Linked DNA regions of Homo sapiens. The protein of the gene in region 1 interacts with the protein of each later gene in a pairwise test. Each region holds a gene or a part of one and is shown on either strand. Other genes may lie near its edges.

Region 1 (5,261 bases):
CCCTTTGTGACAGAGTGAGACTCTGTCTCAAAAACAAAAGACCTAAAGTTGAAATAGCATCCCCTCTTACCACAATTCTGTCCCAAAGAAAGAAGAGTATATTCCACTTTTAAATAACTAAGGGAGAATTTCATTTATAATAAATAACCATACACTTTAAAATTTCATTATAATAACCATGTATTTTTAGAAATTTGTATTTAATTATCCCACTCCACCTTCATTTCAAACAGAGAGACTTGTTTCAGAAAAAAGGCACTATGTAAAGTTTAATAAGATTAAAAATTCTGCCACAATATACAAAGAAAATATAAGTACCTATTCCTGATTAGGTGTATCAGTTTAAAGATCTGTCTCAGCTGGCTTTCTATACATACCTTATGGGAATAATGAGGATCCATGATCCGTGCAAGACCAAAGTCACCTATCTTCAGCACCAAGTCTTCCGTATTAATGAAAAGATTAGCTGGTTTGAGATCTCTGTGCAGTACATTTGCAGAGTGAATATACTTGAGCCCCCGTAGCAGCTGATACATGAAAAGCCTGGCATGCTCTTCCAGTAAAGGGCCCTGCTCCAGCACATTAGCCAAGTCTGTCTCCATGTACTCCTGAACAATGTAAACACTGTTCAGTTCCGTAAGAGAGCCCACATCGTCTGTTAATTGGCTTCCACTGGGACCAAGAATCTCAAACACTTTCACAATGTTATCATGGTCAAGTCTTCTAATAATTTTGATTTCACGTAGAGCATGTTTGACACTCTGGGGATCAGTAAGGACAATTTTCTTGATGGCTACTCTTTTGTCACAGTCATTGTCTACAGCAGAAAAAACCAAGCCATTGCCTCCACAACCCAATGGTTTTAAGTCCATATACCTAGAACCCAGATCAAAACCATGAATGTTCATGAGACTTTCAAATTTCTCTGCCATTTTGAAACCCTTACTATTGCCTTTTCCTTTCAAATTGAACTTGTGTAAACAAGGAAGAAAACTGGCATCAAAAGGAAAGATCTTTCAAAAAGGGAGAAGAAAAATAATTATGCTTCCACAGCAAGATGGTTTCTTGATGTTCATTGCATATGCCAAACAGGCCTGTCGAGTTCCCCTTAGATTTAAAGCTCAAAAAGCTCTATTCATATTGAGAATTAAAAAGATTGCAGTACTCATAGTTCAAGAAAGGGGCAGCAACTCTGCAGACATTTAACGAAAACAAGAAACTCAAACGGAATGAAATGACATACTGTGCACTCAGATTACCGTGCTAAACGATTTAACATTTAACAAAAATGTGAATAAATATGCACACAACAGGCTTCTATGAACATTCTCCTCACAGTGCAGATACATTCAGTGTTGGACTGGTCCTGAGCAGCATCATTCTAAGGTGCTGGTAAGCACTATTTCCGTTTTGCTTCTTTTTTTCCTTTGTTGCTATATATTTATTTCAACAGGAAGCCCTGGCGGCTGTTGGTTAACAGAAGATGTCTTTTGTTAGTGATCAGGTGGCTCCAGCTCACCACAATCACAATCAAAGCTACCGTCCATCTTACTCTGATACAACCTGGGGGGATGAGAAAAAGAAGAGAGTCACCATTGCAGGAAATACTCTTTTCTTCAAATTTGTAGTATGACACAAAGTAGGCATTTAGCAATAAACTACTACTGGTACATTAAACTTAATTATGGTCATTAAGTGACAAATTACCCTTAATCAAAAATAGCTTACAAAAATGTTATCAGCAATTCACACACGTTGGCCCGGGCTCCAGATTTCACTACACTAGATTCTTGGTAACAGGCTCATTAGGTTGTACCATTTCTGAAATGCCAACAAGTATGGGAAGGTTCATAATATTTTTATAGAACTTGAGTTTTGTGAGGGGTAAAACGTTAGTAACATCTATCTAAATATCTAAAAGAATATAGAAGAAGCCTGCAATGTGTTAGTTTGTTAAAAAGCATGTTTACTTATTAACTATGCCTATCAATATCCAATGAACAAAAATCTAACAGCACAAATATGCAAATAATGTTCTTCAACTTATAAGAGTAAACTTGAACAATGAATAATACCTATGAAAAGGTATTTAATGTGACTGATAGGAAAAGATTACCTTAAGAGAACATTTCAGATTGAAAAAACATGCATCTCTGTTAATGTCAAGTCTGAGGAGTGTAGAAAAACAAACTTTCACACAATAGTGGTTGGAGTTTAAATTAGTAAAAACTTCAGAGCAATTTGGCATAAACATATAAATGAATAAATAAATAGCGTACTCTATGACCCGGCCATTTTTCTTCACAGTAAACTCCCTAGAGAAATGCTCATTTTTTTTTGGTAAAGAAAATTAGAAACAACCTCAACTTCATAAAATAGGAGAACAGATAAGTAGTTATATGCATGCAAAATAGTTTTTTTTGGTAAGTACATATGTATATTGCAAAACTAAAAAAAAAAAAAAAAGGAAAAAAAAATGAGACAAATACCAAATTCATAATGATTACCCGGAGATTAAGGAAAGAGACCAGAATCATTTATCTGCGTTTTAATGTGTTATTTATTTTAAAATAACAAACATGGCAGATTACTAGAATCTTATAGAGCTGGGTGGTATGTATATGAAGGTTCATTATATTGATCTCTGTACACTTAAAATATTTCATACTTTAAAAAATATCCTATAAAAGGGCAGGAAAAAATAGCCTCAACTCCAGTAGATGGTTCCCTAGCCAGCCTGGAAAAAAAAAAATGCAACTTGGTTCTTTCAGTTTCTTAATGGCCTAATTGCAGAGTACCCAGAATACCAGATATGAGGCATTATGGAAAATCAGGTGGTCAGAATTCCTAACAAATAAGACCAGACAATATTTTAGGCAGAAAGAATAAAGCCACCAATTTATTCGTTTAATATATAAACATATATTGAGCAACTACTATATGCTAGGCAGGAGCAAACCTGATATGAGCAAAAGGATTCTGGCCCTCAGTAAACGCAACTCATTGTCCAATAGGAGAAAGACAGCTTTAATAAAAACTGATACTTACTATATCCCTCAGTTCTTTTAATAAATAAGAACGGGTCTTGTATCTGCTTAATATCATGAAGGATACTAATAGTATAATAGCTTTATTTTACTGTAACAGAAACGGCTTCTCCTGTCTACAAGTTTTTCTCTGCTTCTCAGAAATCAGCCCTCCTAGCCCGCCCCCCCAAAAAAAAAGTCCTAAAAATTCTGTAGCTTACCAGTCTATCTGTAATAAAACACTTAAAAGTTGAAGTTTGTGAATAAACTTTTGAATTAAAAAAATATCTCAAGGCCGGACACGGTGGCTCACGCCTGTAATCCCAACACTTTGGGAAGCCGAGGCAGGCAGATCACGAAGTCAGGAGTTCAAGACCAGCCTGGCCAATATGGTGAAACCCCGTCTCTACTAAAAATACAAAAAGTAGCCAGGCGTGGTGGCGCATGCCTGTAGTCCCAGCTACTCAGGAGGGTAAGGCTGGATAATCGCTTGAACCAGGTAGGTAGAGGTTGCAGGGAGGTAGAGGTTGCAGTGAGCCGAGATCCTGCCATTGCACTCCAGCCTGGGGGACACAGCGAGACTCTGCCTCAAAAAAAAAAAAAAAAAAAAAAAAAAAAAAAAAATCAAACAACTTAAGTCCAACATATCATTTGCTATTATCTAGCTGAGCCATTAGTCTGTCTTTGGTCTTTAGCCAGTGGATTTTCAATGTTGTTATATGATCTAGCTCATGTGATAGTGGAAATAAGTAATAAAAATAAATTTTTGTGGCCAGGCGCGGTGGCTCACGCCTGTAATCCCAGCACTTTGGGAGGCCAAGGCAGGTGGATCTCCTCAGGTCGTGAGTTCGAGATCAGCCTACCAACATGGAGAAACCCCGTCTCTACTAAAAATACAAAAATCAGCCCAGCGTGGTGATAGGTGCCTGTAATCCCAGCTACTCGGGAGGCTGAGGCAAGAGAATCGCTTGGACCTGGGAGGTGGAGGTTGCAGTGAGGTGAGATCACGCCACTGCACTCCAGCCTGGGCAAAAGAGCAAGATTCCGTCTCAAAAAAAATGAATAAATAAAAAATAAAAATAATTTTTGTATTGGTAAAAAAGTTTCAGATTTTTAAAAAGGGCTTTAATACTGCATGTCTCCCTCCCACCAAGTTTTTTCTGTTTGTACACATCTTGATTCTTCCTGCTCGCTCCCCACTAAATACCCTAGGAAAACCAGTTTGTTTGTTTTTTGAGACAGGGTATTGCTCTGTCATCCAGGCCAGAGTGTAGTGGCGTGATCACCACTCACTGCAACCTCTGCATTCTGGGCTCAAGCAATCCTCCCACCTCAGCCCCTCAGCCCCCCAAGTAGCTGGGACTACAGGCAGGAGTCACCACACCTGGCTAATTTTTGTATTTTTTGAAGAGACGGGGTTTCACTATGTTTCCCAGGCTGGTCAAGAAAACCAGTATTTCTCAAAGGCTCCATTATTTCCTAAATTTTACATCTCTAGTCTCTACCTGAAATAGAATGCTTGTTCACGCTTACCTTCTTGCCTTAACGTAGACAATTCCTTAAAGCTCAGTCATGTTTTACATTTCTGATAAATGTACACTGTAAAGTCAGTTCTATAGACAAATGAAATGAGAACAGTAAGATCTCCAAGTTCTCTCTCAAACTTCTAGTTCACAGCAATCTAGTCAAGCACAAATAATGCTTTGTCAAAAATTACACCACTGTTATCTGACAGAATAGCACTATAGTAGGAGTTGTAGCCAGATTAGGAAAGCCATGAAAATGAGAGATCCTTACTCAAGACCCCCATCCACATCTGCCCCCCTTAAATTTTATTGAGACCAAGCCTCACAAACTAGAAACTTCAAGGATGCGAGTGCCTTTTCAGAATTCTCAGTGACTGGTCAGCACTTAACGAGGTAAGAGTGGGTAAAAAGTGATACTAGGGAAGGTAGGAGCTTTGCCTACACTGAGAACTGCAGAGTCATCACTATGTGCTCAGATGATGAAGACTATACATTGTAACAAGAGAAGGTAGTATTTATAAAACAAACTGTAATTCCACTAGACAATGAGGATTATACCAGTTAAACATCTGGGGGAGAAAAAGATTTACAATGGCAGTGCTTGTTCAGTGATTCTGCGTCACTGCTCTGTGAGTAGTAGTCTTCAAGATCCTTCACTATCCATTAGACCAAATGCTGCTAGAGTGCCTTTTCAGCCAGGATCTTGGAA
Region 2 (4,432 bases), on another chromosome or scaffold:
GGCTAAAATGTTGGACTAAACAGCTGCTGAAATCCCTAAGCAAACAACAGTGGATGAGAGTTTGTAGAAGTGAGGAATCTGGGGAATCAGGCCCCTATACACTGGAAGGAACTTTGACAAATCGAACAAAATTCCAGATGCATTTGTCCTTTGGTCCAGACCCTTCACTTCTAGGCATTATCCCACAGATGCCCCTGCATGAGTACCAGTGAGCTATGGAGGAGGCTATTCAGCCTGGCACTGTCTGTGTGGGCAGAAGACTGAAATTGACCCAAGCATCCCATCTTGTCTTCCTTCCGTTTTGTCCGCCTTCCTGCCCTTTCTTCTTCCCACATGTGCCACCCTCACAGGCTGGCTGAGTGTAGACCACAGACACATAAGCTTCTGTTGCCACCCTCCAGGCCTTACGATCAGAGAAAACTTGGAGGCAGATGAGTGCAATAAAGGATAAACCCATCTACCATGGGAGGAGCCCACAGGCAGACAGAGCAGGTGTTTGCATCCTACCAGCATCAAGGTAACACGCAGTCACACCCCTCCAAGAGAAGCAGTGACTGGTGTTGACTCTTGGAAACAGAAGACCTATCTCTCTCTGCAAGAAACACTTGAGCTTAGGAGAAGATAAAACAGACTGTGACCATTCTTCTCCATGAGGCTCAAAGTCCAGGAGGGTAGGGCCCAGGAAGGATCTGCTCACCACCCCATTCCTAGAGCTGGCATGCAGCAGGTGCTCAGCACGTAATGGGGCAGGAATTCACACAGTCATCTAGAGAGTGCTTGTCTTTACAGTTGGTGTGCTTGCCGTTGTGCCTGTATTCACATGCACAGCACCGACATTCAGCATCACAGTCATATGCAGTACAAACCCACAGTGCCTTGACAAGGCCCATAACTGGATCAGGACAGGGCAGAAAAGTGACCCCCAGGGGTAACTCCAGAGGGTTAGGGTATGAAATACACCTGTCCAGCTACATACTCACACTTTCTGGTCTTGTTGCTGCAACAGAGCAGAAAGGTTACTCAGCTGGATGATTAATATTGCAAATTGCTTATTCTTCTCATCATACCTGAAATGAAAAGGGGCATATGAAGTACCTATTAGTAACACACTCATCTCTCTCATTCCTTCTCTCCATTAAAAGTCACAGGACGTGGCTGTTGGCTGCCCTGGGGCCTATGGTGAGCTCTAGAGCACAGGCCCAGTGCTTTGCTGCCATGCAGGGATGTAGAGCTAGAGCTGCCAATTGTTTGAAAATTTTTTTTTTGTTTTGAAACAGGGTCTCACTCTGTCATCCAGGTTGAGTGCAGTGGCATGATCGGGGCTCATGGTAGCCTCGACCTCCCAGGCTCAGGTGATCCTCCCACCTCAGCCTCTCAAGTAGCTAGGACTACAGGTGTTCACCACCACACCCAGCTAATTTTGTGTATTTTTAGTAGAGATGGGGTTTCATCATGTTGCCTGGGCTGGTCCTGAACTCCTGGAATCAAGTGATTCCTCTGCCTCAGCCTCCCAAAGTGTCAGGATTAAAGGTGTGAGCCACCACACCCAGCCAGTTGTCTGAATTTTTAAAAAGAACCCATAAATGCGGGTGAAATTTCATGATATGGAAATGTTGTCAACTAATTCCTATTAAAAAATATTGAAGGCCAGGTGTGGTGGCTCATGCCTGTAATCTCAGCACTTTGGGAGGCCAAGGCGGGCAGATCATTTGAGGTCAGGAGTTTGAGACTAGCCTGGCCAACATGGTGAAACTCCATCTCTATTAAAAATACAAAAGTTAGCCGGGCGTGGTGGCACACACCTGTAATCCCAGCTACTTGGGAGGCTGAGGCAGGAGAATCGCTTGAACCCAGGAGGCAGAGGTTGCAGCGAGCTGAGATCACACCACTGCACTCCAGCCTGGGTGACAGGTGAGACCCTGTCTCAAAAAAAAAAAAAAAAAAAAATTGAGATCATATCATCCCCCAACAAAAGAAAACAAAAAGAACAACCATGTGTGTATTGACCCAATCTGGGCTGCAGCCCCCAGTGATCAACTTCCATCCAGATCAATGAAACCTAGATGGGATGGAAAGACAAAAGCCACAGCAACAATGAACAAACACACTGAGAGGCAGGAGGTCTCAGTCCCAGTCCTGGCTCTGCTACCAGCCAGCTCAGTGAGTTGGGCCAAGTCATAAGGTCTTTTAAAACCCCATTTCTCCAACCTCATTTCTCCTATCTGTAAAGCGGATGGCTGGGAGGTGAGGAACGAATCAGCATCCCTTCAGTTAAGAAGCTGCAATGGCCAGCAGGTCCTGCTGGTGCTGCCTTCCACCCTGGGCGGCTGTGAAGGTAAATGCTGGGGAACGCTGTGGATGAAGAAGGGACCCCACACAGACCGTTCCTTCTGTCCTCCTCGTCCTCGTCACTTACTTCAGGGCAATCTGAATTCGGGTCGCACCCACTGCTTCCGATTCGTCACTGTCAAATGCAGCAGCTTCTGAAGCACCCAGTCTGAAAGGCAACAGGGGAGGAGGAGTTAGGCTTCCCTACAGTGAACAAACTATTCTGGGAGGCTGAGGTTACATCCCCAGGAAGGAAAGTTGGGGTTTGCTCAGCTTCCCTTCAGGTCCTTTTTTAAATTTTAATTAAAAAAAATTTTTTTTAGAGATGGGGGCTCACTATGTTGCCCAGGCTGGTCTCGAACTCCTTGTATCAAGTGATCCTCCCACTGAAGCCTCCCAAGTAGCTGGGATTACAGACTCACACCACTATGCCCAGCTTGGACTCCTCTCTTAAGGGGCCTTCCCTTTCTCTAGTGCTTGCTCCTTAGCCATATACCTTTTTCGTAGCTACCACAGAACTAGCACTCCCCCAAACCTGAAGCATCTCTAACCCCAGGAAAAGTTATGCTGTCTGTGCCTTGGGCAGCCAAGAGGAAGGTGGGGTCATGCCCTCTTGGGGCTCCTCCCACACACTGTGGGGGCCAAAACCTAAGCCTCTCCACAGGCCTAGGCTCTGGATATTCAGAGTTCATGGCTTACAGGGCCACAGAGAGAGCCAGCACCCAGACACCTACCTCTGCACGGAAGCCTCGTACACACCACTGTCTCCAGCCACTGACTCGTCCGATACGGCGGCTGAGACACAGGCCACTTTCAGGCCACACCCCTGGGCCGTATTCACAGCTAGGGAAGGAAAATGGAAAGGCAGGTTCAGGAACCAGGAAACTGCCTTTGCGACTCCCAATTTTGTTTTGTTTTTGAGGCAGGGTCTCACTCATCCAGGCTGGAGTGCAGTGGCACAATCATGGCTCACTGCAGCCTCGACCACTTCGGGTTCTGGTGATCCTCCCACCTCCGCCTCCCAAATACTGGAACTACAGGCATGTGCCACCATACCCAGCTAATTTTTGAATTATTATTTTGTTGTAGAGATGGGGTTTTGCCATATTGCCCAGGCTGGTCTTGAACTCCTGGTCTTAGGCGATCTGCCTGCTTTGGCCTTCCAAAGTGTTGGGATTACAGGCGTCAGCGACTGTAATCCCAACACTTTGGGATTCGGGGAGCCTGAACTCCCAATTTTGATACACTCTCTATGGAAGACAGACGGTTCCACCAAATTCCAACCACCTCTAAATGCTAAAGCAAAAAAAAAAAAAAAAAAAAAAAATTAAAAAAAAGTTTGCTTTAGGGTGATGGAAGGAGTCACATGTGATTTTGTGTTTTACCATCCCAGGCTCTTGAGTCGAACTGCCTGGATTCAAATCCGGCTCCACCACTCACTGCTTCATGACCTTGAGATACTGACTTAATCCTGTTAAGCCTCAGATGCCTCATTTGTAAAACTTGGATAATAATACCTACTTATAGGGCTGTTGACAGGACTCAGCGAGACATTATAAGGGAAGTCCTTAATATAGAGATTGGTGCAGGCAGGCAAAGTGCTCTGCAAAACTCATTACAACTATCCTTATTGCCACTACTGTTCCTATCACTGTAGATATCCATACTTTCAATGGCAAAAACTGCAATTACTTTTGCATCAACCTAACAGATCCATCCCTACCCACCTGGGGCAAAATAACAGCCCCTGGACCCTCAGGACAGAGAAGGGAGAGATTAAGCACCCGTTCTTCCACTGCCTATCCCTTTCCACTCCGAATTCAGCTCCTCCTCTTCCCTAACCTTAACAGGGGCCCTTGAAAGTCTCTGATCTGAGGCTCATAACTAAGCACTCAACACGTGCTGCACATTCCTTCCTTGCCCAAGTAATGATCACTCACGATGTGCCAGGCCCATTGCCATGTTCAGAACTACAAAGATGAATAAGACAATTCCTGCCCTCCTTGCAGCGGGGAAGGCCAGATCCAGATCTTACAACCTCACAGCTAACACCTCTGAGCACCTGCGGGCAGACCGGAGCAGGGCAAGGGCTCGCAGCATTGAG

The links. Proteins that work in one complex are often made in the same cells at the same time.
Region 2: the proteins of MAPK6 (region 1) and WWC1 interact in a two-hybrid assay, tested with the Homo sapiens proteins (one large-scale study listed by BioGRID and IntAct).

Annotation. Positions count from the first base shown.
Region 1 is NC_000015.10:52,042,132-52,047,392, reverse strand, and holds part of MAPK6 (mitogen-activated protein kinase 6), read right to left. Parts: intron 4,640-5,261; exon of another isoform or gene 4,560-4,639; intron 3,616-4,559; exon of another isoform or gene 1,729-3,615; intron 1,564-1,728; 5' UTR 933-1,563; coding exon 378-932; intron 1-377. UniProt on the Homo sapiens protein: Atypical MAPK protein. Phosphorylates microtubule-associated protein 2 (MAP2) and MAPKAPK5.
Region 2 is NC_000005.10:168,426,772-168,431,203, reverse strand, and holds part of WWC1 (protein KIBRA), read right to left. Parts: intron 3,172-4,432; coding exon 3,063-3,171; intron 2,498-3,062; coding exon 2,417-2,497; intron 1,068-2,416; coding exon 981-1,067; intron 1-980. UniProt on the Homo sapiens protein: Regulator of the Hippo signaling pathway, also known as the Salvador-Warts-Hippo (SWH) pathway.